2 linked regions of the Homo sapiens genome follow. The protein of the gene in region 1 interacts with the protein of each later gene in a pairwise test. Each region holds a gene or a part of one and is shown on either strand. Other genes may lie near its edges.

Region 1 (5,688 bases):
GAGGCTGAGGTGGGAGGATTGTTTGAGCCCAGGAGGTTGCGGCTGCAATGAGCCATGATCACACAACTGTACTCCAGCCTGGGTGACAGAACAAGACCCTGTGTCAAAAAAAAAAATTCCCTTAAGACTCTTCAGTGTAGAGGCAAGATTATCCATCTCTCAGGCATCCTGATTCATTGATGCAGGTGACCCCACATTGTTTTCACCTTGAAGGTTGTCGTTTAATTTTGTGTGTGCCCAAGTGCTGACAGATAAAGAGAATTTATTGAGGCTTGGCACTTTGCAATTATTTTACATGCATTATGTCAGTAAATCACAACTCTTTCAGAAAACACTATTATGCCCATTTAATTTGCCATGGCATTTATATTAAATGCCATGAAATTTTCTTTCTTATTTATTTATTGAGACGGAGTCTCTCTCTGTCACCAGGCTGGAGTGCAGTGGTGCGATCTCAGCTCACTGCAACCTCCAACTCCCTGGTTCAAGCGATTCTCCTGCCTCAACCTCCCGAGTAGCTGGGATTACAGGCACGTGCCATGACGCCCAGCTAATTTTTGTATTTTTAGTAGAGACGGGGTTTCGCCATGTTGGCCAGGGTGGTCTCAAACTCCTGACCTCATGATCCACCCGCCTCAGCCTCCCAAAGTGCTGGAATTAAAGGCGTGAGCGACCGCACCTGGCTGAAATTTTCTTATTTATAAATAAGAAAATTGAGGTTCGGAGAGGTTAAATAACTGTCTCAATGTTACGGTGTTCTAGTAAGTGTCAGACCCTGCATTTAACCTAGATATCTCGACTGCAGAGCCCATTCTTAAGTGCCACCTTGTGTCTTTGAAATGTTCATGTGAAGCATCTAAGTGCAGGTGAGATACCACTGCGAGCTCCCTGCTTTATGTGTGGTTTCTTCGTGCTCTTTTAGGGCTTTGCTTCTGAGACCTTTTTGTACAGTGACTGCTCACTGGCAAAGAATGGAAGAGGAAGGCTTGTCATCTGAAAGATGCAAGATAATGAAAAAAGGAGAATAAAATACAATAGAATGCCAGGGTGGGTGGAGGAGAAGTTGAGTGGGTAATAGGTAGACAAGGGTTAAAGATGAGGAGAAAGGATAGGAGTGTGGTTTCCATACATTATTACTCTTATTTTCCCCCAGTGTTCATACTTAAAAATTTTAACTTTGACATACGAATACTTAGCTTTGTATACTACTTCATATCTTTTTTAGAGCAAAGTAGAATAAAAACAAATAAGTTTTATGACACTTGGCAGATGAGCAAGCCTCTCTGAGCCTCAGCTTCCGATTTCCTGAGTCAAAATTGTTGGCTAATGTCCACATAGGAGATATCAACATTGAGGTGGTGGTTAAAACCAACAGAATGGATAAAGTTACCTGGGAAGGGTATTTGGAGAAAAAATAACACGTGGACCAAGGGCAGAAACCCTGTCATCCCTGCATTTTCCGAGGCCAGAAAGGAGCAGAGATGGAATTCACCAAGACTCAAGGAGAGATTTTTGTCTTAGAAGCCAAGGGACCCAGTGGAAACTTCCCCCAGGCAGTAACCTTAGTTAAAGGCCAGGTTATAAGAAATAAATTAAAAATTAGGAAGTATAAGAAATGAACTAGAAAGTCCAACTGCTGTTTAGCTGCAGCCGGTTGCTGCTGCTGTGAAGTGTAGGCCTAATGGTCCAGAGCTTATCTTTTTAAAAAAAAAAACTAAAACCATGAATTTTTACCCCCAAATTCCCAGTTTTTAATGTTATCAACTAATTCAGATTTTTTGAAAAACAGTATTTGGCTCAAGTAAATTATATGTATGGAGATATATATATATATATATATATATATATATATATATATATATATATATATATATATATATTTTCATATGGGTTATATTTGTTCTGCTGGGCTCTAGTTTTTAATCTCTGAATAGTGTTTGTTTTTTTCAAATGGAAAACATAGTCCAGAAAGGCCCTGTAAGATAATTACATGGCAGTATCAAGATCGTTGATCTTCATCGATAATCTTTTCCAGAACAGTTGCCTGGAAGGGTGAGGACATTTTTGCATTAAGTAGTAAATGGGAGATGAGTGACATTAGCAAGGGTAAACAAAGACACGTGGTTGAAGAGAGAGAATGATTGTTAGGTGGGGACATGGATGAAGGGGAGTCACATTTCTGTGCCTTGTTAACATTTTTAGCTCACATTCAAAGTAACAAAGAACAATTCCTACCTTTGTATTTACCGAATATATTTGTTTAATGCTATGTGTGAATGATCCTAACATTCTCTCTCCCCCCACCCCCACAACCAATTTGACAGCTTTTTTTCCACTTACAAAGAGAACGGTCCTTTCCTGAGCACAGAGCTAGGTTTTACGCTGCTGAAATTGCTAGTGCATTGGGTTACTTACATTCCATCAAAATAGTATACAGGTACAATTTTAAAATATACTTGTAAAAATTGTATATAACAATATTTTATTTCGGTTTGTATTCAGTTTTGCGTTTCTTTCCTTTTAATTTGATAGAGACTTGAAACCAGAAAATATTCTTTTGGATTCAGTAGTAAGTATTCTCTTTTAAAAATCTACTAGTTCTCAATTTTTGTTGTTGCTTTTATGCTTAGTGCAAAAAAAGTCTCAGAGATTCTGTACTGCGTTATTTTATTTATATAACATTCTCAAAATGACAAAACGGTAGGGATGGAGAACAGATTAGTGGTTGACAGGGTCCAAGGGGATAGAGAGTGCAAAGATAAAGGGGTAGCATTAGGGAAGTTCCTTTGGTGGTGGTTACACAAATCTATACATCTGTATTGCGTAGAGCTACACACACACACAAAGCATGCATGTAAAAAGTGAAAACTGAACAAGGTTGACAGTCTGGTTAATAGTATTGTACCAATGACAATTTCCTCTGTATACTATTTTGCAATTTCATATGGATCTATAATTATGTCAAAATAAAAGGAGTTTGAAAATTGTTAATTTATTGGCCGGGTGTGGTGGCTCACGCCTGTAGTCCCAGCACTTTGGGAGGCCAAGATGGGTGGATCACTTGAGGTGGCACGCCTGGGCAACATGGCGAAACACCATCTCTACTAAAAATGCAAAAATTAGCCAGGTGGCACGCGCCTGTGGTCCCAGCTACTCAGGAGACTGAAGCATGAGAATCGCTTGAACCCAGGAGGCAGAGGTTGCAGTGAGCCGAGATCACACCACTGCACTCCAGCCTGGGCAACAGAGTAAGACTCTGTTTCAAAAAAAAAAAAAAAAATTAACTGAAAAATTGTCAATTCATATTTATGCATTGTTTTATCTTACTGCCCCTGTATTTGTCAGGGACATGTTGTCTTAACAGATTTTGGGCTTTGTAAAGAAGGAATTGCTATTTCTGACACCACTACCACATTTTGTGGGACACCAGAGGTAAGAAATATATCTCATTGTCATTTATATAATCATGTATAAAATGCAAATATGAATTACAGATTGCATATATAAATTTAAAATAAGAAAAGTAGAATAAAAACTGTCATTTCAGCTTCCAGCCAGCTGGAAATACCTGATAATCATGCCTTGATAGTTGGGTATTTTTAACTGTGATTGTTAGATACTGCAAGACCCTTTTGAATAATCCAACAAATATAAATTATGTTTATTTGTTTTTAGTGTTAGAAGTTTACCTTAGGCTTCTTTATGCATTTAATTATATTTCTTTTTTTGTTTTTGTTTTCTTCTAAGGTAAATATTGTAGAAAATTATATTTCTAATCCTTTAAAAATCACAAATCAGTGATGAAAGTGTTCTTTCTGTGACTATGTTAACAACATTGAATCACACACTTTAAATGGGTGAATTGTGTGATATGTGACTATTTTAATAAAGCTGTTTTTCTTTTAAAAAATGAGCTAAAGCAAATATGGCAAAATATTAACACTTGACTATATCTCAGTTGCAGTTTATTGGTTTCTCTTGTTTTTTATATGCTTGAAATATTTTGTAACAAAATTAAGTGTTTACTTACTAGAAGAAAATAAAGCAGTGGATATGGAAAAACAAATCACAAATCAGAATTTATTTATCAGAACATCCCATTTTCTAATCATGTTAGCTAGCAAAAAAAGTATCTATTTGTGACAATAGTAATGATCCTTACAAATCATGTAAAAGCTTTATTATTCATACTTCACACACATAAACAAGTTTAGTTTATTTTGAACTGTCCAAATTCCAAGGTATTTATAATGATTTTAGGTACCACATAATATTTCATCTTTATCGTGGAGTACTTGCAAATACAATGTTGAAAACGTGTGAGAGAATGGCTTCTAACTGAGTTCAGAAACTTAACTAAAAGTATCTCTAAGTAATAAATATTTACCTTGAAATGGGTTTTTCCTTCTTTTTTCTGTCTAACCCTAGTGCTTGTATATATTTATAACCATTGTGTTTTGGTTTCTGGATGAAGAAACATTCTTTGTTATTGTATATTAATTTCATAGTTAAAATATTTTGCCATTTCTTTTCTTTTTCTTTTCCTTTTTTTTTTTTTTTGAGATGGAGTCTCGCTTTGTCATCCAGGCTGGAGTGCAGTGGCGCAATCTCAGCTCACTGCAAGCTCCGCCTCCCAGGTTCACGCCATTCTCCTGCCTCAGCCCCCCGAGTAGCTGGGACTACAGGCGCCCGCCACCACGCCTGGCTAATTTTTTGTATTTTTGGTAGAGACGGGGTTTCACCGTGTTAGCCAGGATGGTCTCGATCTCCTGACCTTGTGATCCACCCGCCTCAGCCTCCCAATATTTTGCCATTTCTTTAGATCACATAAAAAAGCTTAAGAGGAAATTATTTTCTTACATGTATTTCATATGGGAAGAGGTAATATATTTTGGAATGTAAAATTCAAGTTCACTGTCTTAGATGTGTTAAGTTGTGATCAGTCTAAATTTCCTACAAATTAAAATGTAAATAGACATCTACAACTTATACAAGTTTTCTAAATAATATGTTAGAGAATTGCTGTTATAATTCTCAGATGAGAATGCAATTCTTTCTTTTTTACTGAAAAGAAAAAAAAGGATTATAATTGCTACATTAAGTATTCTTGCCGGGTGCCGTGGCTCATGCCAGTAATCCCAGCACTTTGGGAGACCAAAGTGGGCAGATTGCTTGAGCCCAGAAGTTCCAGACCAGCCTGGGCAACATGGCTAAACCCCCGTCTCTATGAAAAATACGAAAAACTATCCAGGTGTGGTGGCGCATGCCTCTAGTCCCAGCTCCTCAGGAGGCTGAGGTGGGAGTATCACCTGAGCCCAGGAAGTCAAGGCTGCAGTGAGCTGTGATTGTGCCACTGCATTCCAGCTTGGGCGACAGAGAAAGATCCTGTCTCAAAAAAACAAAAAAATTATTTAAGGGGAAAACATGAATAATGACCAAATGAACTTCTAAAATAATCTTTGAAAGACTTTCCCCACAAATACCTACATCACCTATTGGGAATTATAGATTCTACCTTCGCGATACTCTTATTTATTTTAACTGTATCACAGTTTCCAAGGAGAAATGCAGAATACATGTATTGTGAAGTGTTCTAGTTGACATTAGCTAAGAACCACTGGTGTAGAATGAGAATATCCAACCCACTGGAAATCTAGATAATTTGGTTTCAGTATGATAGCAACAACT
Region 2 (3,110 bases), on another chromosome or scaffold:
GCCTAAGCCAGCTGAGTCTCTATCATAGCTGAACCCTGAGGACAGCCTCATAGCTCATGTATCAGGGACTTTTGCCACATTTCAGAGGCATAGCATGAACAAGTAATATTAAGCCAAGAATAAGCAGCAGAACCCTGTTCCATATGGAAAAAAGAAAAACAATTTTTTGTCCCTAATGTTCTTCCTTTTACATCCTGGAACAACAATAAAAACATTTTTTTAAACTTGTCTACTGTAAGATACTGCCATCATAAAGCAGAGACTTACATGAGTGAAAGGGTTGCCTCATCAAGCAGCTCAGTGTAAATGGGGAGGCTAGGCTCTCCCCAGCCCTATGGTTTTTTTATTTCATGTACCCCAGGAAATACTGTGTGGTTTCTAAAAGCCCTGGTTGTTAAAAGTAGGGACTCTGCCTTTTTGTTGGTAGGGAGAAAAAACGCTATTGCTTTGTCTTACAGAGCGAATGTCTGCCAACTACCCGTTCATTATATAAGTCTGAACTTGGTAATATATGGCTAATGAAGATTAAGCCCTCTATAAAGACTTCCTGTTGAGGTGAATTCTCATACTGAAATGTAGTTACCTACAATATTTACTAGAGATTTATGAAATTAAATTAAGAGATAATGTAAGAAAATACATTTTTTTGGTTCTATATAATGCTTCATGATTCATTTAGGGACCTAGAAATATTGTGTGAAAATATATAAATATCACCCAAAAGGCTTTCTGCCCTATATTTTTAAAATACAGAATAGTTATATTTGAAGTAGCCCTGGCCCTAGTTCTATAGGGCTTGGCTATTTAATATTTTTATGGAAGAAGTGTTTAGTTCTGGAAAAGGTAAATGCTTGTATATATTTTTGCAGCCTGGGATCTCCCTACTCCATTTTTTCCTTTAATTTAAGTGGCCACATGTATATGTCTTCCCTGCTGTGTTAGGAAAATGGGGGCTGGATATCCCAAGAATCAGAGGTTATATAAAAATACTGCAAATAGACCGCAGACATAAATATCTACCAAATGCTATCTTAAATTTTGGTCCAAACTGAACATATGGAAATAGATTTATTGTAAGTATTTACTTAGAGCTTTTTCTTAAATCTGAACTAACTTGCTTTTAGAAGTCTTTTTCTTTGTAAGCATTGTAAATGCTAATAAATCCTGTTAATTTTTTTTTTTTTTTTTTTTTTTTTTTACTGCATGTTACATTGAAATAAAAACAAAGTAAAATGAGCAATTGCCTTATTGTTCTGCTCTTTTGCAGGGGGTGGGGGTTGGGGAAGACAGCATTCCACAGCCTGGTCAGGAGGGAAGGACCTCACTTGTTTCATCAAATGGAGTGGTTTAAAACTGATCAAGCAGCTCATAATAATGAATTCCTGCTCTGTCTTTTATTATCTTATGTCAGAGTGCAGCAAAATCTCATTTCATAAGACTTACAATAACTCTATTTAAAATTCAGGTATTGTACTCGGGAGGCTGAGGTGGGAGGATCCCAGGAGTTCAAATCCTGCCTGGGCAACATAGCAAGACCCTGTCTCTTAAAAAAACAAAAAGACATATTCAGGTACTGATTTTTCATCAAGAGATTGACATACCAATGATCAGAAATTTTAGTGAAACTTGACTCAACTATACACAAAGTTCTCATCCTAAATGAACTATTTCAGTCAAGCCCACTCTACCACTTTTTACTTATCTGGTTAATAATCCGAAATGTTACCGGGGTTGACTCACGGAATTAAATTTTTCCTCTATTTTTATATCCTTTCCTGTTGTGGATGTAACTTACCTTTCTAAACTCCTTTAGAGTTAACGACTTCTATTTAGTATTGTTGGTATCTCCAGCCCCCCTCCTTTTTTTGTTTTTCTTTTAGTTATTTACTTTGTTTGTATAATTTGCTTTCATTAACTAAAAATGGAATTGGCAGCACTGGATTGTATATTACTGTATTAAGAGTACCTTTGTTTTCTTGATCTGTTACTTTTAATACTCAGGTAATGCTACAAATATTACAGGGAGTCAAATGCTTTTATAAAGTTCCTTCAGTGGTTGCCTCACTTGCGTTTTCCTACAAGATGTAAGACTGTTTATAATTAAACTTTTTTGGTCCTTCATTTGCATGCTTTTCTATCAGTCTTGGGTAAGGAGGGGTCTCTTTCCTCTCTCCCCGGCCCCACCTTCTGAGACTTATATGTGACCAGGTCACATAGATTTCTGCCTCTCTGCTTTTTTAAGTGGCAAGTTACAGCCCATCTGGATTGTGGTATTGTTCCCAGACCAAATCAAGGGTTGGACTGCTTATTCTCGCAGCCCAATAATGAGGTGCAGATGAACTGAGAAAGGAGGGAGTTTATTTCTGTAACCAGGTATGGGGAGAAAGCCTGGAAATGATCCCAAGACCAACTCAAAACTACAAAGTTTTCCAGAGCTTATTTACATTATAAGCTATATGTCTACATGTGAGTGTACATTCATCTAAAGACATAAGTGATTCACTTTTTTAAATCTATAAATAAGATCTGAGCCCTGAAGACCTTCCTCTGGAGCCTCAGTAAATTTACTTAATCTAAATGGGTCCAGGTGCTGGGGTGATTACCCTTATCTTGTTTCCTGCTAAATCATGGAGGTTTGGGGACTTCCTTCAGACCCCCAGTAAACTTGTTTGTGGAGGCCTTCAGACCCCCTCAATAAGTTCCTTCAGACCCCCAATAAAACTTGTTTAATCCTAAATGGGTTCCTTTGTTATCTTGTCATGCTTCAAGGCCCAGAAAAGGCCTGGGCAAAACCCTTGGTGGCCTTTTGTTACATTCTAGCCTTTGCATAAGGGCCCTCACTCTTTCAGCTTTTAATATTTAACTTAACCACTCAGTGCTGAAACAGTTGTTATGGAGGCCTGCGTTATTGAGATCTGGCCTGCCACGGTACGGGTAGAAAAAAACTAGAAAGAGCTGTTGCAGATGAGACTGGATTTGGTGCCCATGTTGAAGATGAAGATATCTGCAGGGGCCATCAACCAACATAAAGGCCTCCATATGAATTGCTTTTCTGAGACAACTAAAAGACCGGGACCACAGGCATGAGTGCTGAGTAGAGAACCACCAAC

Evidence for each region. The genes of interacting proteins can lie anywhere in the genome.
Region 2: the proteins of C8orf44-SGK3 (region 1) and ITCH interact in binary tests that used the Homo sapiens proteins (3 or more experiments, as listed by UniProt).

The regions. Positions count from the first base shown.
Region 1 is NC_000008.11:66,837,679-66,843,366, forward strand, and holds part of C8orf44-SGK3 (serine/threonine-protein kinase Sgk3), read left to right. Parts: intron 1-2,324; coding exon 2,325-2,437; intron 2,438-2,532; coding exon 2,533-2,569; intron 2,570-3,345; coding exon 3,346-3,432; intron 3,433-5,688. Other genes in the region: serine/threonine-protein kinase Sgk3, read left to right, coding at 2,325-2,437, 2,533-2,569, 3,346-3,432.
Region 2 is NC_000020.11:34,509,273-34,512,382, forward strand, and holds the end of ITCH (E3 ubiquitin-protein ligase Itchy homolog), read left to right. Parts: 3' UTR 1-2,501; downstream 2,502-3,110. UniProt on the Homo sapiens protein: Acts as an Acts as an E3 ubiquitin-protein ligase which accepts ubiquitin from an E2 ubiquitin-conjugating enzyme in the form of a thioester and then directly transfers the ubiquitin to targeted substrates.